5 separate regions of the Homo sapiens genome follow, and all the other regions are linked to region 2. Evidence: fine-mapped expression QTL. A gene starts in region 2. Each other region holds a variant in brackets. All regions are shown on one strand. Distances are between the middles of the regions.

Region 1 (6,314 bases), 470 kb after region 2:
AGAATATAGATTTTTCCCACAAGAGTCAGCTTTGCAGGGCCATTTCAAAATATGTCAAAAGATTTATTAGGGTAAAATACTTCTATTTCTTTCAGGGCCTGCTATTTGTCATGTGATGTTATAGTAGAGTCAGGTTGGAATTTATTATCTTATTGCTGCAAAGAGTCTGTTTTGTTAGGCTTAAGTTCACTGTTTTCATATTAATGCTGGTCACTTGTGCCCGAATTTAAATGGGCAGAGAGTATAATGAGGCATGTCCAACCCCTCTTCCCACCATGGCCTGAAAGTTTTTCAGGTTTACTTTGGAATCTCCTTGGCTGAGAGAGGGGTCTATTCAGTTGGTTGAGGGGGCTTAGAATTTAATTTTTGGTTTACAATCCTCTGACAGAAGCTGGGGTATCCAGCCAGCATGTGCTCCACTGGGGCTGAAATAAAGCCATGGGCCCAAAGGGAAAGATCTCAGGAAGGGTTCTAGGCCAAGGGATCCAGGACCTTGGGATCACTTGGAGAACTTGTTTTAAAATGCAGATTTCCAGATCCCACCATAGACTTTAACAAATTAGATTCTCCAGCAGTGAGGCCTTAAAACCTGTATTTTTACTCTAACAACATAATAATAGCAATTAATATTCATTGAACACATACTCTATGTTACATGCCTTATGCACATTATCTCATTTAATCATCACAATATCCTATGATCTAAGGACTAACATTTTTCTATTTCACACTTTAAGAAACAAAGGCTCAGAGAGGTTAAGCAACTTGCCCACAGTCCCATAGCTAGTAAATAGAGTCAGGATTCAAACCCAAGCAGAACAGCTCTCAACCACTACAGCATACTGAGTATTGCAGATGATTCTTTTCTTTTCTTTTTTTTTTTTGAGACAGAGTCTCATTCTGTTGCCCAGGCTGGAGTGCAGTGATGCGATCTCAGCTCACTGCAACCTCCGCCTCCCAGGTTCAACTGATTCTCAGGCCTCAGCCTCCTGAGTAGCTGAGGTTACAGGCACATGCCGCTACGCCCAGCTAATTTTTGTATTTTTAGTAGAAATGGGGTTTCACCATATTGGCCAAGCTGGGACTCCTGACCTCAAGCAATCCGTCCACCTCAGCCTCCCAAAGTGTTGGGATTACAGGTGTGAGCCATTGCGCTCGGCTCCAGATGATTCTTATATGGCTAAAATGGCTCCAACCCAACTTTGGGGATCATTCCCTGCCCCCTAGTCCATCCTAAATAAAGAACATCAAAATCTTCTTTTCTCCTTTCTTTAAACATTTCCAGAAGCACACCTGGACCCACTCAATAATCTTAGCATCATGAAAAGTAGAACAACCGGACATAAAATAGTGACATAGAAAGTACACAGCAACACCTATGATATGCTGTGACTTACAAAATGGAACCTAAATCCGCTTAAGCCTCTTGTTCAGCACTATCAACAGAACTTTCTGCAATGATGAAAATGTTCTAGATATGTGCTGTCCAATAGAGTAGCCACTAGTCACATGTGGTTACTGAGCACTTGCAATGTGGCTAGTGTAATAGAGGAATTGAATTTTAACTTTTATTTAATTTTAATTAATTCTAATTTAAAAACTGAAGTGGTATAAAATATTTTCCATTAAATACAACTTTATTGTTTCAGTAGAATTGCATTTCACTTTAACCGTTGCATTGCTTTGCGTAAGAATTGAAATGTGGGCTGGGCACAGTGGCTCACACCTGTAATCTCAGCACTTTGGGAGGCTGAGGCAGGCAGATCACTTGAGCCCAGAAGTTCAAGACCAGCCTGGGCAACATAGTGAGACACTGTCTCTACAAAAAAAAAAAACTTAGCTGGGCATGGTGATGTGCACCTGTAGTTCCAGCTACTTAGGAGGTTGAGAGGATCACCTGAGGTCGAGGCTGTAGTGAGCCGTGATTGTGCCATTGCACCCTGGGCAACAGAGTGAGAATCGGTCTCAAAAACAAACAAACAAACAAAAAAACAGGTTGAGATGTGCTGTAAGTATAAAATTCACACTGGATTTTGAAGACTTAGTTTGAAAAATAGAATGTAAAATATCTCATTAATAATTTTAAATAAAAATATTATTAAAATCAATTCACCTATTTCTTTTTGTTTAGTCAGTGTGGCAACTAGGAAATTTAAAATTATGTATGTGGTTCACATTACATTTCTATTGGACAGCGCCAATAGGCAGGGTATCTCCTCTAGATCTAACTACTAGTTACAGGAAATACAGGGAACAGAGGAATGAGTTAAAGAACACCATGAGGAAGGAACAAGTCTAATCCAGACTGTGAAACAGGACAAGTGGCCTAGTTTTCCAACATATCAATGGCATCAAAAAAGAGGCAAAAAAAGAGAAGGGGAAGGGGGAAGGTGAAAGGGTGAAGAGAGACTGAGATAAGATGGCACATTTGAGCATATGTACCATCTGCCATAGCTGCAGCGCCCCTCTGCTCAGGGTTGAGTAGGGTGTGGCCTAAGGTGGCTGCCTTGGTGTTGGGGACCAGGCTGGTGCACTATTTTCTCAGTGTCTCATGGGTGAGGCCGTCCTTTGCCCCACTCTGACCCTTGCCCCCACCTTGGGCAGGTGCTGGAAGCTGGAGCACCCTCCCAGCTGCTGGAGTAACCCTGGGTCTGCTCTGCAGACTGGGGTCAAAGGGCCAAGATGATGGCTCCAATCCTTCAGCAGCAAAGATACAACCTTCACCTTGGGGTGGGACATGTGAGAGTTCTAGGGCTCAACTTTTCTTCTTGTGAAACAGGAGTGAAAAAAATAATGCTTTCATTACCAGCTTTGGATGTGAGGGTGGGAGTGAGAGGAATCTCTATGAGATTCTTGATAAAGTCCTTGACATAAACACCGTACATGGTGTCATCATCAGGGGTGGCAGTGGTGGAAGGGGGCTTGATTTAGAGTTTATTTGAAGTTTGCCACCGGTGCAATGTGCTTTCCCAAACATTTCCTCACTTGAGCTTGATATCCACCCGGAGGGCATCCTCATTCT[C/A]AGATGAGAAAACTGAGGTCTCAGGAGAGCAAGTGACTTGCCCAAGATCACACAGCTAGTAAGTGGCAGGACCAGGATTTAGACCCAGATTTTCTCAGCCCCAGTTCACCATGTGTCCCTCTCACCACAACCCTTCCACATTACAAAGCCTGAGGTGCTGATGCAAAATGGAAAGGCTCAAAGCAGCCCCAGGCACTGGGCAGTCCTCTGATATCCCTGCTCTGCTGCATCCACGCTCTCCTCACAGTGGGCTTCACTATCTATCTTCCTCTCTCCCCAGCTATATTATTTTTGCTTCCACAGCACCTAGTGCAAGAAAGACATTCAATCAGAAGTTTGGTGAATAAAAGAAGAAAGAAAGAAATAAAACATTAAAAATAACAACATGATGTAGAATATTCTGTATCATATAGACAGTGAAGCCTTGGTATTTGTGAAAGATCTGTCCAGAGCTCTCTGCAAATTTTCACATCTGCAGTGCCCCCTCTGAAACACACAGAACCCAGCTCCACCCTTAGTCTGCCAGCCCCTGCCAGGTTGTGTGGGCCTGTGACCTCGGGCAAATATCTAAATAAATAATAACCCTGCAATTCCTACTTTAAATAAAATGCTGCATCAGTGTAAAAGCTTCTTAGCTTAGCATTCCCAAAAGCCACTGACATGAAGTCTGGGGTTGAGGGAGGACTTTGGGGTGCAGTAATCAGTCATCTGTTTGAAGGTGAGATATGGGCAGGAGACCTGGTGAGACATGGTCTCCTTGGGATGAAGAAGGGAACAGCCACTGTGCCCCCTAGAATCTCCCCCAGAAACTCAGAAAGGTGGGAGGCTGATGACCTGCCACTGTCTAGGCCCTGGATACCCAGGCTGGGACATTCACATTAATGCTCAGTCACCTCTTTTCAAAGCCAAACCAAGGAGCCTGAGTGTCATTTCTTTACCCTCTAAGACCTCTGCCCTGGAGCCACCCCCCATCTCCTTCCAAGTTTCTTTCCTCTTACATCCCACATCTCTTTAGCTTTAAGATGAAAAACAAAGCCTCACGACCTGGCCTCATCTCTTCTCCTAGTGTTCCCAGGATCATCCCCTTCCTGCAAATCTGACCTTTGCCTCCTTCCTCCCTGCAGGGTGGCATGCCTGCTGGAAATGCTTTTCAGACTCTTCTGGAAATGTATACATGAATGACCTGCACAGGCAGCGATAGGGGAAAAATGCTGCCAGAGCTGCTGGGCCCAGGAAGCTGGGCTCAATTCAGGAACCTGGGAAGCATCACTGCCACCCTGGAGCACTCTGCCAGGCAGTTCTCTGGTATGCAACCACCACGGTATCGCTTTCCACAGGCTTGGAATCAAGGAGGCCCCAGAGCAGTCAGGGGCCTGTGATGGGAGGCCAGCCCAACCTTCACAGGGAGACTTACATTTTTCAGGGCTAGTTCCACATGTGACATGAGTTAAGCTGCTGAGATTTTGAATATATTCTATACCCCATACAGAAGTCAACTTATATGGACAATTAAATCCTTCCCAGTCCTGCCTTCAAGAGTCACGACCAGAGGCAGCTGCTTCTAGGGAGGTCACAGATGGGATAATAACAACTGAAAGGGATTTAGATCAGAGCCAGGCATGTCCTCCTAGTGCTGGCCACTTGAGCAGAAAGCAGGCGGAAGCCCTGCACCAGACAACAGTTGCTGAGAGGGGCAGTGGGATCAGCGTAGACTCATTCATAAAACCTGCAACTGGGCAGCTTTCAACTGAGTAGGTGGATACTAACACTTACTGGGCAAACCCACTAACCTATTAGGGCCCAGTGAGGACCACGAGGCCAAGACTTCTGACCAGCCTAACAGGAGTCACTAAGTCTAAGCAACAAAAGCCCATGAGGCTGGGTGCGGTGGCTCATGCCTGTAATCCTAGCACTTTGGGAGGCCAAGGCGAGTGGATCACTGGAGGCCAGGAGTTCAAGACCAGTCTGGCCAACAGAGTGAAACCCCACCTCTACTAAAAATACAAAAAAAATTAGCCAGGCATGGGGGCACATACTGGTAGTCCCAGCTACACAGGAGGCTAAGGCACAGGATCACTGGAACCCGGGAGGTAGAGATTGCAGTGAGCCGAGATCACGCCACTGCACTCCAGCCTGGGTGACAGAGCAAGACTCCATCTCAAAAAACAAACAAACAAACAAAAACAAAAGCCCAGGAACTCCTCTCCTGGGAGGTCCTCCCTCTCAGAACCTGGCCATACATGGGTTAGGGACAGTCTTGGAACGCTTGGGTCTTCTCCAATCTCATAAATTCTTAGCAGTCCATAGACAGGCACCCTGAGAACAATGAGACAGCTTGGAAGTGAAGGGGGAGACAGAAACGGGACAGAACTTAATAAGCACAGAGGCCCAAGCAAGTCATGGGAGCACCAGCGTGACAACTGATGTTACAGATGGTGCACCTGAGCTCACAAGAAGCCGGCACATAACTGGCTGACCATGAGCCCTGTTGGGAAAAACACAGACATCTCAAGAGCATTTACCTGCCACATCCCCGCCACCGACTCCTAGGGTTCTACAAACAGGAAGAAGCAGGCAATTTCCCCAGCAATTAAAGGCATGCCAATTATAGTAAGAAAGTATCAATTTATAGCTATAAAGATCAATAAATAATGAAACACGTTTCAAAACAAATGACCCAGGGCTGGCAGGGCTGCAGGCACACAGCAACACTCCTACGTTGTGGTAGTAATGGTTAACCAGCACCATCTTTGAAAAGTGAGGATATTGAGTCCCAAAAATGTCAGCCTTTGGCTTAGTCATCCCATTCCTGGGGATGTTAGCTAAATCCTCAGGACTTTGCTGAAAGAATTAATTAAAAAGAAAAGGAGAAAATCATGAGAAGAAAGTTGTTTTATCAGTAAAATTTGTAATGGTTAAAAGCTAGGAAATAAAAAGCATGTGTCCAACAATAAGGATGCTATGGTTTGACTATTTGTGCCCTACAAACTCGCATTGAAATTTAATTCCCAATGCGGCCGTATTAGGCAGTGGGACCTTTAAGACGTGATTGGGTCGGGGTGCGGTGGCTCACGCCTGTAATCCCAACGCTTTGGGAGGCCAAGGCAGGCGGATCATCTAAGGTCAGGAGTTCGAGACCAGCCTGGCCAACATGGAGAAACCCCATCTCTACTAAAAATACAAAAATTAGCTGGGTGTGGTGGTGGGTGCCTGTAATTCCAGCTACTTGGGAGGCTGAGGTAGGAGAATAGCTTGAACCCAGGAGGTGGAGATTGTAGTGAGCCAGGATCGC
Region 2 (6,314 bases):
AGACATTAAACAAATAATTACACGCATGAAGAGTGTTTTTAGGCCGGGCGCGGTGACTCATGCCCGTAATCCTAGCACTTTGGGAGGCCTAGGCGGGAGGATCTCTTGAGCCCAGGATTTCGAGACCAGCCTGGGCAATATAGGAGACACTGTTTTTTTTTTTGTTTTGTTTTTTGTTTTAAGTGTTTTTAAAAGCCGGTGTTGGGGCAGACAAGGACATCACACACTGGGAGGTACCCTGCGGGTGGGAAAGGGTCGGGAAAGACTCCCTCAGGAAGTGATGTTTAAACTGAAGTCTAGGGGATTAGGAAACGGAGTCTCTGAGAGGGTGAAGAAATATTACATACCAGTATGAAGCATGGCCTGAGTGAGGTCATGCTCCAGGGCCGAACAAGGGGTTATGGATGCTAAGTGGGGGTGGGTGTCCGGAGGAAACAGAAGGTTGGTGGAGCAAGGCCTTAAAGACAAATAGGTTGACATGGAGAGATGGGTGGAAGAACTTGAGCCAAGGGCAGATATTATTGTTTCTCCTCCTCCCGCTTCCCAGGGAAGCAGCTCTCATCTAGTGTCAGTAAAAACAAATACAAAGTTATAATTTATTGGCCACCTAGTATGTGGTGGCAATTTTCATGAATTCTCACATGTTCCTTGCGAGACAAGTATTCTTCTTCCAGTTTTACAGATCTAGAAAAGGCTTGGAACGGCTAGAGACGCTTGCTAAGCCTGGCCGTCAAGTAGGCAGCAGAGCTAAGATTTGAAAGCATGCCGGCCTGCCTTCCTAGGCAGACGCACTTTCCACAACGCATCACTGCCATAAAAATCCCAGGCCGAGGCTTGCTCTAACAGCAAATACCACTTGGAAAAGGACAGATCTTTGAGGACCCAGAAATACTTCTGGGGAAAGGATGAGCAGAGGTGCCCCCGGTGGGTGGATACCATTAGGCAGAGGTCTATGCGGAAGAGGCCGACTTGTGGCGTGGGAGGTAGGGAGGAGTAAGAAGTGATTGACGGGGCGTCCCTGGCTGCTCTAGGACTGCATTGCGGGGAGGTGCCCGGCTCTAACCACTGCCCGGCCCGGTTAATCATTTCCTGACCTTCCTTCCTCCTCTCGCTCTGGCCGCAGGATTGCCACATCAGTCTTCCCCCTCCTCCTGCTCGCCTTCTGGCCCCGAGGCTCCTTCGCCGGGTTTTACAAGGAGCCCCAACTTGGAAGCAATATTTGTAATAGCCCCGGACGTCCTCAAGTGCCCCAGTGAGATCGCAGGCTCGATCCAGGGTATGCCGGCCCAAGCGGCCCCTTGAGGCTTGCCCTCTTCTCTAATCCCTCACTAAAAAGAGGTCAGAGGGTCAGGGATCCAATCTCCATACAGATCAACAAGTTACAGACTCGGTTTCCCCCTGCGGTAAAAAGGGGATGGTAACAGCTGGTAGGGTGTTGCGAGGCTTAAATGCGGTATGGGAAGTGCCTGGCTGGGAGACCTTAGGTATCTAACAAATGCTAGATCCCTTCCCTTCTTATCGCCTGGTAATGGGGAGTTTAGCTTGCCCAGCAATCCCAGGCTACGTTTATCTCACTTGAACTTCCTGGCTTGAAAGTCCTACGATGTGCTGGAGGTAACGCAGATGGTGAGTCACAGTGACAGGATTTGAACGTGGGTTCATGGGCGCCCCTGCGGGCCCACCCACGCAGCATCTAGGTGGCTGGCTAACGCCACGTGTTCAGAACCTAGAAAGGGCTACGGATCGCACCTGCCGCAAGGAGCCTAACGCTAAGTCGGGCGGGACTGCCCTGGCACCCATGAAACCCGCTGCCCGCCTCCCCCGGGGCCAGGCCCTTGGCCTCCCCAGCTTGTTTCTTCGTGTATAAAATGAGGGCCACGGTGCCTGTCTGCCCGAGAGGTTTTAAAGTTCTTCTTTACACTTTGCGGAGCGGCCGGATTTTTACCACGAAGCCACCGAGTAGTCCGCACCACATAGGTTCAGTATCCTCCGCCCACCGCAGGAAACGCCGCGGACGGCCCGGGGTGCCCTGCTCGGCGCCCCACCCTTCCCGGGGCCGGGGAAGCGGCGTGACTAGGAAAGTCACTTCGGAACACAGCCGGACTCTGCGCCACCAGCTGGAGCTCGCCGGGACCCCACCCCGCGGGCTGGGCGGGGGCGGACCCGGGGGCGGGGCGGGGAGGGGCCGGCCTGGAAAGGCGGAAGCCTCCAGTCTAGGGGTGGCTGCAGAACCCGGATCTCGGAGTTACACGTTCTACGGAGCGGGGCGCCGGGAGACGGCGGGCGAGAAAACCCGGCGTCCGGAAGCCCGTGCTTTCTTTGACGCAAGGGCTCGAGACGCAGCCGCCGTCGGCCGAGCGCCCGGCTAGAAGCGACACCAGACGGAGCCTCCGGAGTTCCTCCGCCCCCACCTCGCCGGGTCCTGGAGCCGCAGTCCTCCCAGCTGCCCTCCTCGTGGCCATGGAGTGTCCACACCTGAGCTCCAGCGTCTGCATTGCTCCGGACTCAGCCAAGTTCCCCAACGGCTCCCCGTCGTCCTGGTGCTGCAGCGGTGAGTGCGGCCACGGGCCGGCCCCGCAGCGCACCCGAGGCCGCGGCTCTGCCGGGCCTGCCGTCTAGGGGCCGCAGGCGGCCGGCGCGCGGACTCGGGGAGGGGCGAGGGCGAGCCGGGCCCGGCGGGCTGGGGAGGGTACGCGATGAGGCGGGCGCGTGCGGGAGCGGCGGCGGCTCCTTTGTTTCCCGAGGCCCGACGGCCGGGCCAGCGAAGGAGAGGGCCGCGAGGGGCGGGAGTCCGCGGAGGCCTCGAGCGCGTGGGGGCAGCGGCAGGCGGGGACCCTGGCCAGCTGCGTGCGCCCTTGCCCCGCCCTGCCGTGGCCGGGGGCTGTGCCCGTCCGTGTTGCGGGGTCGCCTGTGGGGCGGGTGTCCGGCCCCCGAGGGGCGGCCGCACGTGTGGCGGGGCCCGCGCCGCGCTTCTCCGCAGACAGGGCGGGAAGAGCGCCGCTCTCCGGGCGCAGCTTTGTCTGGGCTGCGGGGCGCGCGGGGCTCCTCTCCTCCGCCGAACCCGGCCCGGGTTTCCTTTCCCTTCTCCGCAGGCTCGGGCACCTCGAAACCCCGAGAGGCGCTGGGAGCTCGGGCGGCGGAGGTCGGGGTCTTTCATCCGTCAGGGATGGTGAAGTTTGAAAACAGGCTGCGGGCTGAGAAGCTCGGAGGCTGAGCCAACAGCTGCTTTGGAGGGGACTGCTCGAGTTTGTTTTTCAGACCTTTTGGGTTGTCCGAAAATGCGTTGGGATTCCCAGTTCCTGTGTTGTGAAACACTTATTAGATTTATATAAGGCTTTTGAGTAGCTTAAGCGTTTTAACTCCTGCTGGCCCCCTTGGAAGCCCCAGTGCCCTCTCATTGTCTGCTCTAAGCGACTTCTTAGGATCGCACCGGCCACACGGCTTTGCTTACTTCCTGGTAGGGCCCTGGTGCCACCGCTAGTCTTTGTTTATTAGCTTTGAGATGGTCACTGGTATCTTGGGTTATATTAATAGCGTACAATTCGAATTGTGCACTTCAGAAATCTGAAGTTCATTTGAAGAAATATAGAAAAACGGCAATGGTATGATTTAGCTGTGACATGTCTCATTGTGGGCCGGAGCTGGGAAGATAGTTTAGAGAATGCCTTAGCACTTTTGACAGCTTACTACTTAAATAGTGATTATGTTCTTGGAAACAACATCGGTAGGTCCACAAAGAAAAATGTACTCTGGGATAAGGAATAGAAATAACTGCGGTTTCCTGGCGCGCTCAGACGTCTGATGCTTTGCTTGCCTTTGTAAAGTCAGGTATCTTTTTCTGCATGAAGCCTTTGAAAATTAACGGTTAATTGGTTTCACAGAGCAGTATTGCAGTTCTTTTGTGAGGATGCAGAAACTTGTGTAAATTAGCTTTTACCTGTAAATCTGTCGGGATGTTGAGTATAGAACAACAAATAAGGTGTATGGCACTGCTTTACAAATTGGTTGGTGGTGGTACATTAGCTATAACTGTAGCCATTGCTGTGGTGCTATAATTGTAACTTAATTTTTTTCCCAAAAGAAATTTGAAGAAAAAAAAAAAGACCAAAGTAAACACTAGGAGAAGCCTACCTCACAGGGAATGGTGGGATTGCTCTTGCTCATCTGTAGTAAACTACAGAAAGACAACATGGACAATTAGCACACTTCTGGCATTTTTTAGGTAAAATCACATCAAACTTAAAAATGGCTTCACTGGGCACATACATCTAAAAAATGGAAAAGAACTGTGCAAGTGGCAGATGCCCTCTTGTGAGTCAGTCTTGCCTCTGTCAGTCAGGGAGTCCACTTGACTGTGAAAAAGAGATGCAGGAAATTGAGCATCTCTTGAGGAACTTAATAAGTTAAAATGGAGCATAACGAGATGTGCTGATAACAAGAATAAACTAGTATGTGGGGTGATTTCTGTTCAAGGGGTAGGATGACATCTTTGCATCTTGCAACAAAGTGTGTCTGACATATAGCTTTGCAAGCCTGGGTCTAGTCACTTACTTGGATTTGTAGAACCAATAAAGCGAGTTTCGCAACTTTGTGTGAGTCCACACTCTGAATTGAACCCATTTTATGTAGGCCTCCCGTCTTAACCCGTTGGCATCCATTTGTTGATATAATCTAGCGTTATTGTATTAAGCTTGATCTTGTTCTTGCGTGCCTGTCGTTTCAGTGATTAAATGATGAATCTGTGAGTCCTTAACTAACTCATTATCTTGGAGTGTTATATAGTCGTATTTTTTTTCTCCCACACTCTTGATTTTATTTTATTTTTGTTTTTTTCATAGGGGACCAAAAGGGTAGCCGATGTGTTGACTAATACTGTGACTGGGTATTGAATCTGATTATGTTCTTATTAAGGAGGGGAAAATCCCTGTTTTGGCACTGGGACAATAAAAGTAATGCCCTTGCCTTATTTTCTTTGCGAGTTTGCAATTATACCACGGTAAGACAGCCAAGCAAATTGCAAAATGCCACAACATTCTAGGTTCTACCAGTTAGCAGTACCTAATTGGACAAATAGTTCTATTTTCTTTGAGTATCAGTTTCCTTATATAATCTGCAAAGAAAAGGGTAATACTTTGCATTTACTTCACAGGTTGCTGTTAGGATGAACAAGGTAATTTTTTGTGAAAACTTTGAGAAACTTGTATACACTGTTCTAGTAATAGGTGGTATTAGAGGTCAGAACATCTTTGTAAAGAGGACTCTGAATAATTAAATATCCAAAGCCCATTAAATGGGGACTAGAACAGACTGGCTTTATGCTGAATGATGCTTTACAGGGAGATACAGAACTCAACAAGATTACAAGAAGTAAGAAGTAATTATACTTCAGAATTAGCATGAGCTTCTTATCCATGGAAGGCACTGTGTGTTGGGTTATATAATTGTGTATGACAGTGGTTCTTACACTTTTTGATCTTAGGACCCCTTTACACTCTTAAAAATTGTTGAGCACCTGAAGAGCCTTCGTGTAGCTTATATCTGTTGATGATGTTTATTAGAAATTAAAACTGAGAAAAACTTAAAATATGTATTTATTAATATGCTTACAAATAATAATAGACCCACACCCATAACATAAATTGACAGTTTATGTAAAATGTTTTTCAAAACAAAAATTTAGTGGGAAGAATGGCATTATTTTGCCTTTTTGTAACTCTTTGTTCAGCTTTATAGAAGACAGCTGGATTCTTACATTGCTTCTGCATTCAGTCTCTTGAGATGTCACATCATGCAGCCTCAGGAACACCCCACTGCATGCTTGTGAGAGAATGACTGTAAACAAAAGTAACATCTTAAATATTATGTATGAAAATTGTTTTGACCTTCTGGATCCCCTGAATGGGTCCTGGAAACTTTCAGGGGTCCAGGACCACACTTTGAGAACCCACTTGTGTAAGCTATAGTTAACAGTTAAGGATACCTGCTCATATCAAAATAACTTTAAAAAATTAGAGAAATCCTTAAGGCTACCAACGTTTATGTTTCTGTAGAGACCTGAGGTTTTTGAAATGTATTAGCTGGGAAATAGAGCATGGGCTCTAGTAGTCCTTTGCTGCCAAAAAAGTTAACAGTCTAATCTAGCTGGGGGAGAGACAGGAAGCTAACTAGTTAGAAGATACATCCATGTGGTTTAAGGTAAATGTTGAAAATAGCTATCTCCTAATAACGTAAAGGCTGATTTATGTCTAATTGTTGCTTAAGGGATTCTAGTTTAAAATGAAAAAGTTTTAAATAAAAGGGCATTCTCTCAAGCT
Region 3 (6,314 bases), 140 kb after region 2:
TGCTGCAGTTAAAGCTCAACAAATGTTAGCAGGATAAATGAATTATGAAATTCTGACTCAAAAGGGATATGTTATCTCTCATTAGCATTTGTATTTATTAAGAGTTATCCTTATTGACTAATAATCATTACAGTATAAAAAAGAAGAGACTTAAAAAAATGCACCCCTTACATCCCAATAGCAAACACTAATGAGAATCTGGGATATGTTTTGTGTTTATATGGCTGTGATCATTGTGCTCTTCTGATTTTATTTTTATTTTTCAATCCTCTTCCACATCTTCTAACTCCTGGTTTCATGCATTTACGCTACTTGCCTAGATGGTCCTGTAAATATCTGAACTGGCAACCTCTGTTTAAGGTAAAAAAATCATTCTTCATGAACGGAATTTCTGACATTACTGGGAGCATTTGAACAGGAGGTATTACCAGGGTGTTCATAATTCACTGTTTTAGCTTTACTCTTTCATGGCTTATTTATTTTTACATAGACTTATCCATGTATATCCATGGTCCAAAGATTCTGTGCAACAACAGAACATTAAGTCATAAGTGACTGATGTAAAAAAATTTTAAAAGAAACTAGTATCAAGCAATAGTAGAGGCTAAAAAAAAAAAAAACCAAGAAGGCTGGGCACCGTGGCTCACGCCCGTAATCCAAACACTTTGGGAGGCCGAGGTGGGCGGATCATGAAGTCAGGAATTCGAGACCAGCCTGGCCAGCATGGTGAAACCCCGTCTCTAGTAAAAATACAAAAAAAAAAAAATTAGCCGGGAGTGGTGGCGGGCGCCTGTAATCCCAGCTACTCAGGAGGCTGAGGCAGGAAAATTGCTTGAACCCGGGAAGCAGAGGTTGCAGTGAGCTGAGATCGTGCCACTGTACTCCAGGCTGGGTGACAGAGCATGACTCCATCTCAGGAAAAAACAAACAAACAAACAAAAACAAAAACAAAACAAAACAAGAAAAAGCAACTATCTGGTAAAGATGCTTTTACCAGAATATATACAAATAGCCAACAGGCATATGAAAAAATGCTCAACATCACTAATCATCAGAGAAAAGCAAATTCAAACCACAATGAGCCATGCACGTTGGCTCACGCCTGTAATCCCAGCACTTTGGGAGGCTGAGGCAGGTGGATCACTTGAGGTCAGGAGTTCGAGACCAGCCTGACCAACATGGTGAAACCCTGTCTCTACTAAAAATATAAAAATTAGCCAGTTTGGTGGTGGGTGCCTGTAATCCCAGCTACTCAGGAGACTGAGGCAGAAGAATTGCTTGAACCTGGGGGTTGGAAATTGCAGTGAGCCAAGATCGCGCCACTGCACTCCAGCCTGGGCGAAAAAGCTAGACTCTGTCTAAAAAAATAAAAATTTACATTAAAAGAAAAAAAAAAACACAATGAGATATCATCTCACCCCAGTCAGGATGGTTATTATTAAAAAGACAAAAAACAACAGATGTCGGCAAGAAAGTGGTGAAAAGGGAACTCTTAAACACTGTTGGTTTGAATGTAAATTAGTACAAACTCTATAGAAAACAGTATGGGGATTTCTCAATGAACAAAAACCAGAACTACCATTTGATCCAGCAATCCCACTACTGAGTATCTACCCAAAGGAAAATAATTCATTTTCTCAAAAAGATGCCTGCACTCATACATTTATCACAACACCATTCACAATAGCAAAGATATGGAATCAACCTAAGTGTCCATCAATGGATGACTGGATAACGAAAACATGGTATATATAAACAATGGAATACTATGCAGCCATAAAAAGAATGAAATCAGGTATTTTAAGCAACATGGTTGGAACTGAAGCCCATTATCTTAAGTGAAATAAGTCAGACACAGAAAGGCAAATATTACATTTTTTTCACTTTTAAGTGGTTATTATTAAAAAGACAAAAAACAACAGATGTTGGCAAGAAAGTGGTGAAAAGGGAACTCACGTGTACACACGGGCCTAGAGTGTGGAATGATAGACAAGGGAGACTTGGAAGGTGAGGGCTGGGAGGAGGATGGATTATGAGAGATTACTTGATGGGTACAATGTATGTCATTTGGGTGATGGATATCTTAAAATCTCTGACTTCTCCACTGTGTAATCTATGCATGTAACAAAATTATATTTGTATCCCATAAAATTACGTTTTTTAAAGATGCATTTACCTTATGTGCATCAATTAGAACAATGCCTCCTTTCTCAAGTGGTTCCTTTGTTCCCAGTAACAGTTTTCCATCAAAATATCCCACTGCAAATGGTCTGTCTTCACTGAACCATGCAATGCAAGTAACAGACACTAACATGATCAAAACAAAAGAGTAAGGAAAAGATAATTATTTGTCATTGTCTGACTTAAAAGACAGAGACTTTGAAACAAATAATGATAATGCAACCATTGCAAGTAAATTTCCAAATAGCTCTTTAATGCATTTAGACAAAATGTAGGCGTACAGTGGGGATTCCATGTAACATACTTTTTAAAAGTGTCGCTTATCTGTGACAAGGGCTACCTACTTTATAATCTTTCATTCTTTTTCAGGTGGTTGTTGAAAAATAGAGACAAAAATTAAATTCCTTTGCTGATTGTAAGTCACCATAGGTTCTTTCCTTTTGGACCAAAATCTACCATGAAACTGAGAAGTGAAAGAACCCAAGTCATAGAAAGAAAATTACATCTCTTTTTTTGCTTATTTAATATTCCCTATTCAGTATGTTTCCATATTCTATCAAAATGTTCTGTTCTCACAATCTATATTTCTACTTGTTTCTTCAAGTATATGTAACACTGAAAGACTACAAAAGAAGTAAAAACAGTATCTGTGAGGGTAGAATGGGAGTGTGGGAACTGAGTAGACAGGAGAAAGACTTTTCACTGTATGCTTTTTAAAACTTGAATTTTTGAACCCTATGAAAGTATTACCTATTCTTAAACAAACAAAACAAACCTCTTCTGTTAATGGAATACCATGTAAGCAGGCACTATGACTTTGAATTACCCCACTTCCCCCAGACAACCAACAAAATCTTGTGAGATGCATTCACGTTCAAAGGAACACCACAGTAAGAAGAAAGCAGACTTCCTAATCTCTCTTGTCAGACCAGGAATTCCCTGCTTCCCCTTCCTCCATTACTTCAATTTTACTCATTTTTTAAAAGACAATTTCATCTCGGCCAGGCACGGTGGCTCACGCCTGTAATCCCAGGACTTTGGGAGGCCAAGGTGGGCGGATCACAAGGTGAGGAGATCGAGACCATCCTGGCCAACATGGTGAAACCCTGTCTCTACTAAAAATACAAAAATTA[G/A]CTGGGCGTGGTGGCGAGTGCCTGTAATCCCAGCTACTTGGGAGGCTGAGGCAGGAGAATAGCTTGAACCAGGGAGTCAGAGGTTGCAGTGAGCCGAGATCGCGCCACTGCACTTCAGCCTGGTGACAGAGCGAGACTCCTTCTCAAAACAAAACAAAACAAAACACACACAAAAAAAACAATTTCATCTCTACCAATGATTATGACCTTTTTTTCTCTTGGACAGTCCTAACTTTCAAAGGAGACTTGGAATCTGCTATAAATATTAAGCCACACAAAAGATGAATTACTAATGTTATAATACTATTAAATCTCATTTTGACAGAGATGTGTGGTGGGGGCTAGGAGATAAATATCTTTCAATTCAGTAACTAATTAAAATTAAAACATGACTGGAAAATTTTGAAAACAAAGCCAAGATAATATTCACTTGGTATTTTTAAAAGCAAATGCCAAAAAGCTAAGTCTAGAAAGGAAGTTGGAGACTCCGTCAGCTAGACGTAAGTGCAGTCATTTACCATCCTTTCGATAGCAATGCTCCAATTCTCGACGGTGCATGGTGGACACATCAACAACTTCAATCAGTCCCAGAGATCCATCCATCCGTCCCACCAACAACAATTCTGGAGACTCTCCTGACCAGGCTGTAGCCGGACCCTCTTCTGGCCAAGCCAGGGCAGATACCCAATGAGGCTGAATATCTACTAATCCTTTTCCTCCTAAAAGGGAAAAAATGTTAACTAGTTTTTACTTAATTCTTAAAAAGAAAAAAAGGAACAGAAACAAATACTACTTAATTCTAATACACACTCAAAGCAGTTCCAAATTTCATAATAGCCTACTAATGAATAAGACCATGAAGGCAGGATCCTTCATTTATAATACTATATATGATCATAAAATTAAAGTTTTTCAGCCGGGCACAGTGGCTCATGCCTGTAATCCTAGCACTTTGGGAGGCCAAGACGGGCGGATCACCTGAGGTCAGGAATTCGAGACCAGCCTAGTCAACATGGTGAAACCTCTTCTCTACTAAAACTACACAAAAAATTGGCCAGGCATGGTGGCACGCGCCTGTAGTCCCAGCTACCTGGGAGATGGAGGCTGCAGTGAGCCGAGATCACGCCACTGCACTCCAGCCTGAATGACAGAGCAAGACTCCGTCTCAAAATAAATAAATAAATAAATAAAATTAATGTTTTTCTGTAACCTTTTTTTTTTTTTTGAAAGAGGGTCTTGCTGTGTTGCCCAGGTTGGAGTGAGTACAATGGCATGATCATGGCTCACTGAAGCCTCAAACTCCCAGGCCCAAGCAATCCTTGAGCCTCAGCTTCCTGAGTCCCTGAGGTTCCAGGCATATGTCACCACGCCTGGCTGTCTGTAACTATTAATAGGGCAAAATGGTAGCGTTATAGAAGAGAGTGTAAAGAAAAACACTGAATGTACAAATGTACAAATGTCAAGCACTTAAGTCCTTTCTCAACAATTACTGATAACCAAATTGGCATAAGAAACTTACTTGCAGTTAAGGCTAGCTATTCCTCAAATGTCACACAGAAGTTATTCCTCAAATATGTGACACAGAACACCTATTCCTCAAATATGTAAAAACAAATGAAAATACTAATAAGCTCGATATTACAATAATTATTTTTACTTTCCAGAGAGGTATAATAAAAACTGACAAGAATTTATACCTGCAAAATAAACATAATAGAAATATTTCAAGCAATTCAAAAGAATACATAGCTTAAAATTCAGTGACAACTACATCTCCCCAAACCCTACTCTGAATACTTAGTGGTACAAGAAAAAAAATTTAAGTTTATAACTACTAGGTTAGTTGAAAGTCCCAGAAAGAAAAGTGAATAAATGAGCACTTCCTCTCTAATTTGAAGCACACAGTGCATAGATTGAAATTTCAGAGTTGTTGGAAGGCTTGTGAATTTCAAGGTGAAGAGAAACCACTGTTTGGACTCAGAAGACTAAGAAGAAGGCTTTAAAAAACTACTTTCAGCAGTTTACTAGTGTTTACATGACTCTTACCATTAACTTGCCAGATATTCACCATCTTTTCCAAAGCGCCTGCTAGATATTTGCCACTGATACTCCAGGAAACTGGTGAGAAACTTGGATCACTGGGTGATCCCAGGCTTTCCTCAGCATCCCCTTCCCTAGAATATAACAGACAGATATGCAGTTCTAATCCCCATCATTCAAAAGTAAATTAAATCCCAAACCTTAAAATAAGGGTTTCATATAGACTAGAGTGTATAACTGATTCTTCTGTTTCAAAACCTTGGCTAGCAGTATTTAACAGTTACACACTCATTAATGTTTGTCATCATGTGAAAAATGAATTATAAAAGAGTGATATTAGACTTTTCCTCATTTAATGTAGTACACAACTTGTCAATAAAGACATTCAAATTCTGTATGTGTTGTACAGATGGTTATTATTCAGAAGACATTGATTCTTATTTGCCTAAACTCTTGGGAATACTTCAGAAAAGAAATAGCTACAGCTGGCTATAAAACTATTAAAAATGCGGCTGGGCGTAGTGGCTCACATCTGTAATCCCAGCATTTGGGAGGCTGGGGCAGGCAGATCAGAAGGTCAGGAGTTTGAGACCAGCCTGGCCAACATAGTGAAACCCTGTCTCTACTAATAATACAAAAATTAGCCGGGCATGGTGGCAGGCACCTGTAGTCCCAGCTTCTTGGGAAGAGAAGGCAGCAGAATCACTTGAACCCAGGAGGCAGAGGTTGTGGTGAGCTGAGATTGCACCACTGCACTCTAGCCTAGGCAGCAGAGCGAGACTCAGTCTCAAAAAAGAAAAAAACAAAACAAAACAAAAAAAACTGTTGAAAATGCTACATTCTGATACGGAAGCAATATAATTACTCTAATTCCTAAACAACTCTTAAAGACCTATAGCAAATTAGCCTACTGTTTTACATAGTTGAACATTTATTTACTAGTAGATCTTGATTTAATTC
Region 4 (6,314 bases), 55 kb before region 2:
TTAAGTATATTGCTGATGTTTTGAACAGACAGCTTCAACAACATTTCGGTATGTAGCTATCATTAAGGAGAGTTTTTAAAAATAAGATCCTTTGTACTTGGGGGGGTGGGGTGGTAAGGGAGAAAGGGTATCAACATGATGCTGTAATCTGATCTTTTTAGCTTTCAAATGATGTCACTTAATGACTTGGACCTAAATACACTCAGGAAGCTTAGGCAGCCCCAGTGCGCAGCTGCCTGTGTTGGAGAGGATCTGAAAGTCCTGCCTATCCTGGAGTGCCTTCTTCACCACTTTGCACCAGGCCTAGGGTTGCCCCCATTAGTTACTCTTTTGGGTCATGGTCCCAAAGGGAGAGAAGAGAAGGGACAGCAGAAGTTAGCTTTGTTAGCTCACTTGACATTGGAATCACCTGAGAGCTTTAACAAATACTGATGGCTGGCCTCACCCCCTGGAGAGTCTGATAATTTGTCCCAGGTGCAGCCTGGGCATTGGAATTTTTTTTAAAGTTCCCAGATAACTCCAATGTGCATCCAAGGTTGAGAATCATTGCCCCTGTGCCCTCTCACCCCAACACTCAACCCTCACCTCTCCGTCTTCTTCTACTGCAGCCCTGGTCAGTCCAGCAAGCCCTGGGGCTGAGCAAACACAAATAACTCCACTGCGAGATAGGGATCGTGATCTCCATTTTGCAGATGAAGAAACTAAGACCCCAGAGAGTCTGTTACACAACTTTGCCCAAGGTCACACAAGTAATTAATAGCAGACTAGATCTCTCTGGCTTCAAACTGGTTCCCAGTTCATCGGGCTGCCTTGATAACTTGGGAGCATTAACTCATTAAGCTGTTAATACATCAGAGGATTTCATTTATGGTAATAATGGCCCCTTACATTTTTATGGAGCTGTTAGGGTTCACAAAGCACTTTCATATACTTTGACTTTTTTTAAGCATTATTCCTCCATTTTATTATTTTTAAAATTTATTTTAGGTTCTGGGATACATGTGCAGAACGTGCAGATTTCTTACATAAGTAAACATGTGCCATGGTGGTTTGCTGCACCTATCAACCCATCACCTAGGTATTAAGCCCCACATGCATTAGCCGTTTGTCCTGATGCTCTCCCTTCCCCCGCCCTCTTCCCCCACATATTCTTCCGTTTTAAAAATGAGGAAACTGGAGCCCAGAAACATTGTCTTCCTCATGGTCACAAGATAGAGGAACCAGAATTTGAGCTCAAATCTTCTTACTCCTCATTTCAAAGAAAGAAGTACAATGAGAAACTGGGAGCCTGGTGGGTGTAAATTTTTTGGATGTAGGGAAGATTGAAAAGTTTCAGAGCAGGGCAAGATCTCAGGTTCTCCAAAGGTGGGAACTGAAGAGACATCAACACCCAGGAGGTGCAGAGAGAGAGAGACTGTGGTCCAATGTTAACAACTGGTGAATCTCATCGAAGGGTATACAGGTGCTTGTTGTATGGTCTTTGCAACTTTTCTGTATGTTTTCAAATTTTTTAAATAAAAGGAAAAGTACGAGTAGTTTTAGAAATACCCAAATAGGGCCAGGTGTGGTGGCTCACGCCTGTAATCCCAGCACTTTGGGAGGCTGAGGTGGGTGGATCACAAGGTCAAGAGATGGAGACCATCCTGGCTAACACAGCGAAACCCCGTCTCTACTAAAAATACAAAAAAGCCAGGCGTGGTGGCACGGGCCTGTAGTCCCAGCTATTCGGGAGGCTGAGGCAAGAGAATCGCTTGAACCGGGGAGGCGGAAGTTGCAGTGAGCCAAGATTGCGCCACTACATTCCAGCCTGGGTGACACAGCGAGACTCCATCTCAAAAAAAAAAAAACAAAAAAAACCCCAAAAAAACCCAACAAATAATATTCAAGGTGAGCTGTGAAGAACCAGAGAAAATACTTTTTTTTTCTGAAACTTGGCTGTTGTTTCTAAAAGCACAAAAGTTACTGAATTGTTTGCCTATGTTACTGCAGAAGTGGGAAAATATTGTGTCAAGTAAGCACTGTACATGTCAGGAGTCACTGGGTGAGGTTTAAGTTAATCTTTTAATTGAAAATGCAAATAAAAATAGTAATTTGTGTTGACCTCGGCAATATTCTTCTATAAACATAGATTTATTCAGACTTTACAATTACTTAGTACCCTTTATAATTTAATAGAAATGAAAAAGTATATATAGCAGACTACTATATTAAAATAGCTGCACAAAGAATGTATCTCCTCTTAATTGTTCTATAAAATCCCATGGAAATTTTTGTTCTGGAATGTTGCACACCCTATAATTTTAAAAACAAGCGTTAGAAATGTAAAATGTTTAAACATACAGGCCATTGTAATACCCTTTATCATAAAGAGATAATATGCAAAAAAGTTGAAACAACACACATTTTGTTATGTTACTCTCCTACCTAAAGACTCTGAGTGCCCCTTTAAGTCAACACAAGGCCATGCCCCTTACTTGGGCAGTCATAACCCTCACAAGTGTCTGCAACCCACTTTCCAGAAGCCTCTCCCTCCTCTGCCCCCAGGCACTCTACCAGCCAGCCAGGCCAGGATTCCTGACTCTTCCCTGTCCTTCCTGCCAGGATCTTTGCAAATACTCTTCCCTGGCTGGAAGGCCCCTCCCCTCTCTGAGCAAGTGCCTGGCTTCTCCAAGTCACTGTCCAACCTCAGCCACGCACCACCCCCCACCCAAGCAGAGGTGGCCCTGCCCCTGTCCTGTTGGCAAACGTCCTTGGTGTAGCACTCGCCTCCTTGTATTTTAAGGACATGATAGTGGGATTTTCCTCATTTCCAGAATTTCCCAAGAGCCAACAGCTGGAAAC[C/G]TTTAACATTTTTAGAGCACCTCCAGCTGCGGGGTCAGCTACCCCTGTATAAACTTTCTGAAAGGCACAGCGCCATTTCTGCAGCGCCAGTACCTCATTTCTCCCCCAAAACCCCACCACTCCACCTCCAATCTCTGCAAGATGCATTGGGATGAGGTTGATGATTAACTTTGTAGAGAGTACAGCTGATATAAAGTGAGACCATTCTTTGCTATCTCCTCCGATGGGTGGGGGGAGGGCAGGGTGACTGGATTGATCCCTGCTGTGCCAAACCCCTATCGACTCCACTGGGGAATGGCACCAGGCTCAAAAGGCCGAAGAAGAGACCCAGAGGCAGTGAAAGACACGTGGGTTTTTTTGTTTGTGTGTCTGTTTTTGAGACAGAGTCTCGCTCTGTCACCCAGGCTGGAGTGCAGTGGCGCAATCTCGGCTCACTACAAGCTCCACCTCCCGGGTTCACGCCATTCTCCTGCCTCAGCCTCCCGAGTAGCTGGGACTACAGGCGCCCGCCACCACGCCCGGCTAATTTTTTGTATTTTTAGTAGAGACGGGGTTTCATTGTGTTAGCCAAGATGGTCTCGATCTCCTGACCTCGTGATCCGCCCGCCTCAGCCTCCCAAAGTATTGTGATTACAGGCGTGAGGCACCGTGCCCGGCCCCACATGGGGTTTTATTAAGGGCTTACATACAGGGGAAAGAGTCCAGTGGTGGCAGGCTGGACAGGAGAACCGCAACTGTTTGCAAAAGGCATGTAGTTTACATAGCATTTTCACTTAGTACCCTCCCCCTAACAACCTCCACCTGGCAACCTTCATTTAAGCCAGAACGAAGGGCCTCAAATTCCTGTACGCCTTCCACAGGAAGGGCCAGGGGCTCAGATGTTGCTCCTAAATAAGGAATGACTCGGGTTGGCCACTCCTGGATTCCTTAGCTCGGAACTGCATTCAGGTGCGTCTGCCATACAGTGTCATTCTCAGGTTATGCATCGCCGTCAGGTGCGTCCACCATACAGTCCCATATGTTAAAGCCAACAATGTGCGCACCAAGATAATTGCCCCAAGACAATCTTTCATAGAGCCACAGAGATTTCTGCCCTGACCAGAGCTGCGGGCATTAGAATGAGATAGAAGGGGCCAAGGCCACCACTCGAGTCCCATTCTTGAAAGGTACTATTGGGGCTTCAGACCTGGGAACACCCTTCCCCTTCATCTCTTCATTTCTGCCTTTCTCCCCTTTTTTTTTTTTTTTTTTTTTTTTTTGAGACAGTCTTGCTCTGTCACCCAGGCCGGAGTGCAGTGGCGTGGTCTCGGCTCACTGCAAGCTCCGCCTCCCGGGTTCACACCATTCTCATCCCTCAGCCTCCCGAGTAGCTGGGACTACAGGCGCCCACTACCACGCCCGGCTAATTTTTTGTTTTTTTAGTAGAGACGGGGTTTCACCGTATTAGCCAGGATGGTCTTGATCTCTTGACCTTGTGATCCACCCGCCTCGGCCTCCCAAAGTATTGGGATTACAAGCGAGAGCCACTGCGCCCGGCCTCTCCCTTCCTCTTTTCCTTTCTTTCTACCTTCCACAAATAGTACCAGGAACTATGCTAAGTAATTTAAAAAAAGAAATATTAAGTGCATACATGTCTCCTACTTGCTCCCAGTCTGCAGGGAAACAGTTATAATTTGTCTTACAATCCAAGCGCTATAATGTGGGAGAGAAAAAGCCCCAGAGGCACAGAGCCAACTCTTCCCAAGCAGTGATATTAGGGTAGGGTTGCCAGATAAAGCACATTTTGCTGAAATTGGAATTTTTATTTTAAAAGATCTCAAATACAAATTTGAATATAGCACAGAACATGTTTGTACTACAATAATTGCTCAATGCTTACCTAAAATTCAAATTTAACTGGGCATCTTGTATCTTGTTGTTGTGGTTGTTGTTAAATCTGGCAACTCTATGAGTAGAGGGATATAGAATAATTGAACTGAATGAAATTCAGTTGCTTTGACCAGTTAGGAAAGCTGCCAGGGCTGGGCGGGATGGGGAGTGAAGTGGAATAGAAGGATGGAATCGGGTTGTTGACGTGAGCTTACATAGGAAGAAATGCAATTTAATTTGATTGGGTGGAATAATATGTAGAGTGGGCCAGCAGATTTAGGAGATGGGTGCTGGACCCCTCTCCTGCTACCGGTCAACATTTATTTTATTTTGTCGTTGCTGTTGTTTTTAGACAGTCTCACTGCGTTGCCCAGGCTGTAGTGCAGTGGTGCAATCTCGGCTCACTGCAGGCTTGACTTCCTGGACTCAAGTGATTCTGCCACCTCGGCCTCCCAAGTATCTAGGACCATGGGCGCCACCATGCACAACTAAGTTTTGTACTTTTTGTAGAGACAGGGTTTGCCATGTTGCCCAGTCTGGTCCCAAACTCCTGGCCTCAAGAAATCCTCCTGTCTCGGCCTCCTAAAGTGCTGGGATTACAGGCATGAGTCACTGCGCCCGGCCTAGTCAACTCCTGCATCCTCTTAGAACAGTCACCAGGGTGAGGAAAGTGAGGTGTTGAGGCTGGGAAATATAAAGAGACACTCATGCTCAGGCCATGCCATTGTGCTCTCTTCCCAGCCCTGCAACCCTTCAACAACCCACAGCCCCATTTCATAGATCAGGAAACTGAGGCTTAGAAAGGCTTAGCAGTGTGTCCGGAGTCACTAAATTAGTTAGCAGTGGAGTCAGGATGCAGGCCCAGAAGGCCTGTGCCTGTAACTCCCTCCCTGTATAGCCTTGCTAATAGCAAGTGGTGAAGCCAAGAGATGAACCATCTCCTTTCCAGCCCATGCTTCACACACGTGACCTCATTTGTGAGGAGTGGAATTTATACATTTCAATTCAGAGTGAGCATAATCTCTGTGTGTGGGACAGAGTGGATAGAAGTAACCCGCCTGTAGAGCAGGGTAGGAGGTGGGGTCTATTGAAATTCTTGACCATGGTTCAGCAGTTTGCCACCCTGGCTATATGCTAGAATGCCTGGGAAGCTTTTCAAAATCCCAGATTTCTGGGGGTGGGGCACAGACTTCATTTTTAAACCTCCCCAGGTTGAAACCTACAATGCTGAAAGTCATACTCTTAGACTTATGAATATCCAACTTATTGAGTTAGCAGAGAGAAACTCCAACTCTGAAGAGAGTTTGTTTTCCCTCCACTCCCCCTGCAAAGGCCTGAGAGTTTTCTGGAGCCTGCATCAGCTAGGCTGTGGTGTACCATCTGACAGGAAGGCTGGAGACCTGCAGCCTTCCTGCTTTCCTGTAAACAGCAGGGGAAAGAAGATAGCAAGATGGGTGTTTGGATCCCAAACATGCTTGTTTTAGTGTAGGCAAGACTGTGACATTTTAAAATTCTGAATTGTGGGGTGGGGGCCAAGGAGAGGAAGGGAAGAAATATTACTAGCTCTATTATCTTGCATATCTGAGGATACCCTTTGCTAGGGG
Region 5 (6,314 bases), 110 kb before region 2:
CTTAGCATTTTACGTGAAGTAAACCTTGGTGCAATAGTGTCACCTCTTTCCAGGTGCATTATTCACAATGTCATGGTTAGCTGACACTCAGACATTTAGGAGATATAGTTAGACTGTAATAGCTTAAGGTTTCTCACAGCCTTCTCATTTTTCACACCTGCTGGGGAACCCACTCTCCTCTAGCCTCAGGGATTTGGTCCATATCCTTCCTGTTCTTCTTGTTCTCAGTCTGAAGCACTGTCCTCTCCTACCCGTCTTCTAAACCATAGTGTATTCACAGGCCACATTCCAGCAAGCTCACAAGTGCCAGCCTGACGTGAGTAGTGCTAATATCAAATCTGACAACTTCCGTTCGGAGTCAGGCAGGCAGAATGGTATAGGGGGCAGAGCTTTGGCATCATACGAACCTGGGTTTTGAAACTCCACCATTCACCACCCTGTGTGACTCTGGGCCAGTCATTCAACCTCTTTGAATCTTGATTTCTTCCTGGTTAAAGGGATGAGAGTCCAGCCAGGCACGGTGGCTCATGCCTGTAATCCCAGCACTTTGGGAAGCTGAGGCGGGCGGATCACCTGAGGTCAGGAGTTCGAGACCAGCATGGCCAACATGGTGAAACCCCATCTCTACTAAAAATGCAAAAATTAGCCAGGCGTGGTGGCGCATGCCTGTAATCCCAGCTACTCAGAAAGTTGAGATGGGAGAATTGCTTAAACCCGGGAGGTGTAGGCTGCAGTGAGCTGAGATCACACCATTGCACTCCAAGCTGGGCAACAAGAGTGAAACTCCATCTCAAAAAAAAAAAAAGAAGAAGAGAAAGAGAAAAATAGAGATGAGGGTCCTAGAGTAAGTATACCCCAAAGGGAGAAAGGGAGGAATACATTTAATCAGCTAGGCATATGAAGAACTTAGCACGGCGGCACATAATGAGTACTATGTCAATGATCTTTGTCCTCTGTGGAAACATCCTTACTGGATGAAGTGGGGCTGCTTCTCCCAAAGTTCCAACCCTGGTTTGGGCAACTCCATCAACTTCCATGAACCCTCAGGGAAGAACGAGTAGAGATTTCCAGATATCCCTTTCCCCCACACATTGGCCTCTCATAGAATGTAACTTTGGTCATAACAAACCCAGTCTTATTACTGAAATAAGTTGAAGCCTTCTAAACAAGTAGGCTTAGAACCTCTTTTCCACAGGAAATGCCTGATCACTGGAATTTTGTAGCTAGAAGGTATTCCTGAGCTCAGAGATGCCACATACTATTAAAATTATTGGTAATTTCCTCTTGCTTGGGCACTCAAGCTCTCTACCATTGCAGGAATTCATGAGCTGACTCCTTTATTTCAGGTGCTTCCAAACAAAACTGACAAGCAACACCCAGTTGCCTACATTTTAGTTTGCATTCATCTCCACTGGGTGTAGGGTACTAGGAGCATGCAGCACAATTGTGCTTCTCTTCCAGCTGGAGTCTGTAGACTGAGCCAGGCCACCTTGTTTAGGCTCTAGTGCCTGACAAAGAGCTCAGTGGGCTGGAAGCCTAGTGCAGTTAACACTGATGGCTTTGTAGCTTGGACAGGTGAAAGTCAGCAAGCTTCCCAGTAGACCAATTGATCTGAGTTGCCTCTCTGGCCAGAAGCCAGCCCTGGCAGGGATCCAACTTCCTCTCAAGCACTGAGAAAGGGCTCAGGTGTATCTGGTGGCCGGCAGAGCAGGTAGTCAGCCAAGGCTTCATAGTTCTCACCCACGGCAATTCAGCTAGCAAACTAGAGACACTTCCCCAAGAAGACACAGCGTGGCAAGACTGCTGAGACGCATAAAGAAATCTTAGCTGGTGAGTTACTTCTTTATGCCTGCCCCACTTGAAATAAGAGTTTGGGGCTCCTTTTACTGTGATTAAAACTGGATTATTTATGCTAGCATCTCTGTTTTTTGACACAGCTATGCAAAACTTTTTGATCTTACATGTCTCTGTTTTCTTTACTGTCCAGGATTTTGTGGAAAGTAGAAATGATAGCAAGATATAGTTGGAGTTCTTAAAGAATGTTCAAAGAATCAGAAAGTTCAAACCCCAGAAACTTGGCTTCTCTTTAGAAATTCTGTTTCCCCTGAGGACAGTGGAGAAGGAAAAATACCTCCATAACTCCATTTTTATGATAGGGATTATGCCACTTAATCCCAGTGAATATTTGTAAAATTATTTTGAGACGTTTAGGAACGACATCATAGTCCATAATTACAAAGTGTATTGGTGCTTGTAACTGTAGAGATGTTTGTTTTTAGTGGGGGAATCAGACCTGTCTGTGATAAGAAGGCTCCCTGGGTTCATATCACCCCTGAGATATTCCAGTTCGTAGGAAAGAAGTCAATTCAGAGGCAGTGAATGAGAGAAGTCCCATCATAATAGGTCTTATATAACTAGCCGTCAGCAGAAGGGAACTGCTAAAAACTGGGGGAAAGGGCACAGAAAAGTTATGG[A/G]AGGAGCAGTGCTAACTTGCTGCAATTGTCCCAACAAGAAGGAAGGTGCAGGGAAATGAAAGATAACTCTGTGGCCTCTTCCAGGGCGATGAGCAGCATAGTGCTTTTGTGAAGATTCCACCCAGAGTCTGATGCTGGGCAAAGCATGTCTGGCCAAGACTGGAAACAGAACTTTTTTTTTTTTTTTTTTGAGTCTGAGTCTGGCTCTGTCACCCAGGCTGGAGTGTAGTGGCACGATCTCAGCTCACTGCAACCTCTGCCTCCCAGGTTCAACTGATTCTCATGCCTCAGCCTCCCAAGTAGCTAGGATTACAGGTGCTTGCCATCACGCCCAGCTAATTTTTGTATTTTTAGTAGAGATGGGGATTTTGCCATGTTGGCCTGGCTGGCCTCAAATTCTAGCCTCGAACTCCTGGCCCCCAGCGATCCACCTGCCTCGGCCTCCCAAAGTGTTGGGATTACAGGCATGAGCCACTGCACTCAGCCTGGAAACATAACTTTAAACATTGAACTGAAACAGGGAAACATCTCAGCCAAGTGATTTTTATAAAGAGTTATTAACAGGGAACTTTTAAAAGAAAAAAAAAAGTGATAATCCAACCTACCAGATAATGACTCTTCATTCTTACATGTTCCCTTCTTCTTGTCCATGTCAGCAAAGAAATATACCTGGTTACTATGGAGAAAAGATACCCTATTGTATATACTACTTTTTTAAAAACTAACATTGGATTATAAACACTTTCCAACATTTCTACATAGTCTTAATTATTTTAACATTGATAAAATCTTAAGACAAGTTCCAAGAAGTCATGAAGCCCGGAAAGATTAGTGATCTAAAACAGGGAGTCAAATTTCTTAAGTGACTTCCTCTAGAAGTTCAGGGAACTCCTAGAAGAGCAGCAAAGCTCCAACTTGAAGGATCCAGATACATATGACAATAGGTAGACTGTTGGTAAGTCAGTGGCTTGATGGCTTAACGGGGACAATAACAGGAGGCGAGTATACCCACAGGGCCAGACATGCTGGGGAAGGGAGCCCACTAGAATGGGTCCAAGCCCATAGCCAAGAGCAGAAGCTGCCATAGCGGCGGTCAAGGAGGCTTCATTCTAGATCCACATGCTGAACAGTGCTTCATCAGCAGACTCTCTGAAGAAGCTTCTGCACCTTGGAGCTCCCAAAAGAGATCAAAAGCCATGATCAAGACCAAGGGAAAGGTGGGGGAGTTGTGGGAGCTGGACACAAAGGACATTTAACTCCTTGTCCCACTTCCAGCAGCTGCCAACCATCCTCCTCCCACTCACTCCTGGCTCTCTTTTGCTCTCTTCTCTTTTTTTTTTTTTTAAGACAGGATCTCACTCTGTTACCCAGGGTAGAGTGCAGTGGCATGATCATACCTCACCGCAGCCTTGATCTCCTGAGCTCAAGAGATCTCCTACCTCAGCCTCTGAAAGTGCTGGGATTACAGGTATAAGCCACTGTGCCCAGCCTTCTCAATTTTATTTACTTCTGTCCCTTTAACTTACTCCATCCCTCAGACTGAAGAGTCAATGGGCTGTGATCTTTAGTTCCAAACTCTACATGCTGTCCTGGGGGATCTAAGGCAGAGGTCAGAGGAGGAATGAACTCAGATATCACGGAGGGATAGGCGAGAGCATTAGGAAGTTAGCAATGAAGAGAGTGTTCTGGGGAACAAGGTGACATTTTTACTTGTTCCACTTCTTTATTGTTTGGAGTTTTTTAAATGGCAGATATGTTGCAAACTAAAACAATCACATAAAATTTTTTTTTAATTGAAGGAGGTAAATGTTTTGTTTTCTAAGAGAAAGAAAAGAAACTGTCGATAGTGCCAATAAAAGCAGCAGAGAGATCACTCAGCGCATGTGCAAAGACAAGGTCTTGGATAACAAGTTCTGCAAACCACAGAGTGCACAGAATCTAGAAGCCAGGAAGAAGAACGCTGAGACGCGAGAAACTGTGACTGAATGATATGAGAAGGGCCATTTAAAGACTTTTACAGAGAGGACAAGGAGAGAGAGCAAGAAGAGAAGGAGCTCCTAAGATTTGAGAAACTTGAGGCAAATAAACAGAATAAGGGCTAGGTGCGGTGGCTTATACCAGCACTTTGGGAGGCCGAGGTGGGCAAATCACTTGAGGTCAGGAGTTTGAGACCAGCCTGGCCAACGTGGTGAAACCCCGTCTCTACTAAAAATACAAAAATCAGCCAGGTGTGGTGGTATACACCTGTAGTCCCAGCTACTTGGGAGGCTGAGGCAGGAGAATCACTTGAATCTGGAAGGAAGAGGTTGCAGTGAGCCGAGATCGCGCCACTGCACTCCAGCCTGGGTGACAGAGCGAGACTCCATCTCAAAATATAATAATAAACATAAACAAAATAAGGACAGCAGCCATTTCTGAAGCCAGGAGGAAATGTTCCAGATGGAGGGGAGCGGGCAAAAAAGAGAGACAAGAGCAGTGAGGAGAGAGCCATTAGGCGGCACTGCAGAGAAAACTGTTTGGAGTTTTGAAAATTTTTTATTGTGGAAAACTTCCCAACCCATATAAAAGTGGAGAATACATACTCAGGAGGTGGAGCAGGAGGATTGCTTGAGCCCAGGAGTTTGAATCCAGCCTGGGCAGCAGAGGGGGACCCCATCTCTTTAAAAAAAAAAAAAAAAGGAGACAGTATGGTCATAATGAATCCCTATATACCCATCATCCCTTCCCCAGATTATTTTGAAACAAATTCAAGACATCACATTATTGTGGTGGCTCTCAAACTTCAGCATGCATTTGAATCCCCTGAAGGGCTTGTCAAAACATGGATTGCTGGGCTCCACCCACTGAGTTTCTGATTCAGCAGGTCTGGCCTGAGAATCTGCATTCTAACAAGTTCCTGGGTAATACTGATGCTGCTGATCTGAGGGCCTTGCTCTGAGAACCCTTGTAGTTAGTATTTCACCTATAGATATTTCTCTTTAAAAAGGACTGCCTTATTTAGACATAATCATGATGTTATCAGCACACATAAAAATCAATAATAATTCCTTAATATCATGTTTCCCAATTATCCTCTAAGTGTTTTTGTTAACCATTTGTTTGAACTGGGATCCAAACAAGGTCTATGGATTGCAATTGGTTAATATGTTTCTTTAGACTCTTTTCCTCTATAGGTAGAGTTTGAATGGGCAGCATGAGAGACAGTTTGAGCAATAGTTGAGAGAGATATGCAGATGTGTGTTGTGAAAAGACTATAGGCCGGGCACGGTGGTTCTCACCTGTAATTCCAGCACTTTGGAAGACCGAGGCGAGCAGATCACCTGAGGTCAGGAGTTTGAGACCAGCCTGGCCAACGTGGGGAAACCCCATCTCTACTAAAAAATACAAAAAATAGCCAGGCATGGTGGTGGGTGCCTGTAATCCCAGCTACTCAGGAGGCTGAGACAGGAGAATACTCAGAGGCTTGAACCCAGGAGGCGGAGGTTGCAGTGAGCTGAGATTGTGCCACTGCACTCCAGCCTGGGCAACACAGCAAGACTCCATCTCAAAAAAAAAAAAAAAAAAGCACAAACTTTGGTTTTGATCCCACCTCTACCACTTACTAGAGATACATGAAGACAATGAAGATAATAAGTCTATTCATGGACTACTTTGACAATTATATAAAAATTACGCCTGTAGAGTGGAATCCATACATATTACGGCTAAGGAATCAGAAGCTCTGTGACCTGGGGCAAGTACTTAACTTCACTAAGATCAGTTTTCTAATCAATAAAAAGAGAGATTATAGCAATACCTATTTTATAGGGTTGTGAATGAGCTAATGAGTGTCAACATCTT

Which allele goes with the higher level. Alleles are on the strand shown, and positions count from the first base shown. SD is a standard deviation of normalised expression in the study named. Not every link is listed here.
In carriers of allele C in region 1, the expression in sigmoid colon of the gene that starts at base 2,314 in region 2 tends to be higher than with A alone (large effect, 1.0 SD a copy in GTEx).
For the expression in breast of the gene that starts at base 2,314 in region 2, allele A in region 5 goes with a higher level than allele G (moderate effect, 0.67 SD a copy in GTEx).

Evidence for each region. PIP is the estimated chance that this variant, and not a neighbour inherited with it, causes the effect.
Region 1: its variant is the best candidate, but not a certain one, in a credible set for the expression of USP3 in sigmoid colon (GTEx, PIP 0.61).
Region 3: its variant is the best candidate, but not a certain one, in a credible set for the expression of USP3 in transverse colon (GTEx, PIP 0.63).
Region 4: its variant is the best candidate, but not a certain one, in a credible set for the expression of USP3 in monocytes after R848 (Quach 2016, PIP 0.76).
Region 5: its variant is the best candidate, but not a certain one, in a credible set for the expression of USP3 in breast (GTEx, PIP 0.89).

The regions. Positions count from the first base shown.
Region 1 is chr15:63,974,733-63,981,046 of GRCh38, forward strand. All of the region lies in intron 3 of DAPK2 (death associated protein kinase 2), which reads right to left. Among named protein-coding and RNA genes, the nearest start is that of DAPK2, 69 kb to the right of the region's middle. The variant C/A (reference allele first, on the strand shown) is at 3,023.
Region 2 is chr15:63,502,280-63,508,593 of GRCh38, forward strand. It overlaps USP3 (ubiquitin specific peptidase 3), which reads left to right and starts at 2,314. Exons shown (of 15, transcript NM_006537.4): 1 at 2,314-2,551. The coding sequence starts at 2,461. RefSeq lists enhancers at 594-1,387, 866-915, 1,388-2,180 and silencers at 1,906-2,245, 2,596-2,705, 2,776-2,975, 3,046-3,125.
Region 3 is chr15:63,645,893-63,652,206 of GRCh38, forward strand. HERC1 (HECT and RLD domain containing E3 ubiquitin protein ligase family member 1) reads right to left here. Exons shown (of 78, transcript NM_003922.4): 53 at 5,361-5,488; 54 at 3,833-4,033; 55 at 2,177-2,307. Among named protein-coding and RNA genes, the nearest start is that of USP3-AS1, 48 kb to the left of the region's middle. The variant G/A (reference allele first, on the strand shown) is at 3,315.
Region 4 is chr15:63,447,291-63,453,604 of GRCh38, forward strand. No RefSeq gene overlaps it. Among named protein-coding and RNA genes, the nearest start is that of USP3, 54 kb to the right of the region's middle. The variant C/G (reference allele first, on the strand shown) is at 2,842.
Region 5 is chr15:63,388,432-63,394,745 of GRCh38, forward strand. LINC02568 (long intergenic non-protein coding RNA 2568) reads left to right here and starts at 1,799. Exons shown (of 7, transcript NR_120375.1): 1 at 1,799-1,830. The variant A/G (reference allele first, on the strand shown) is at 2,475.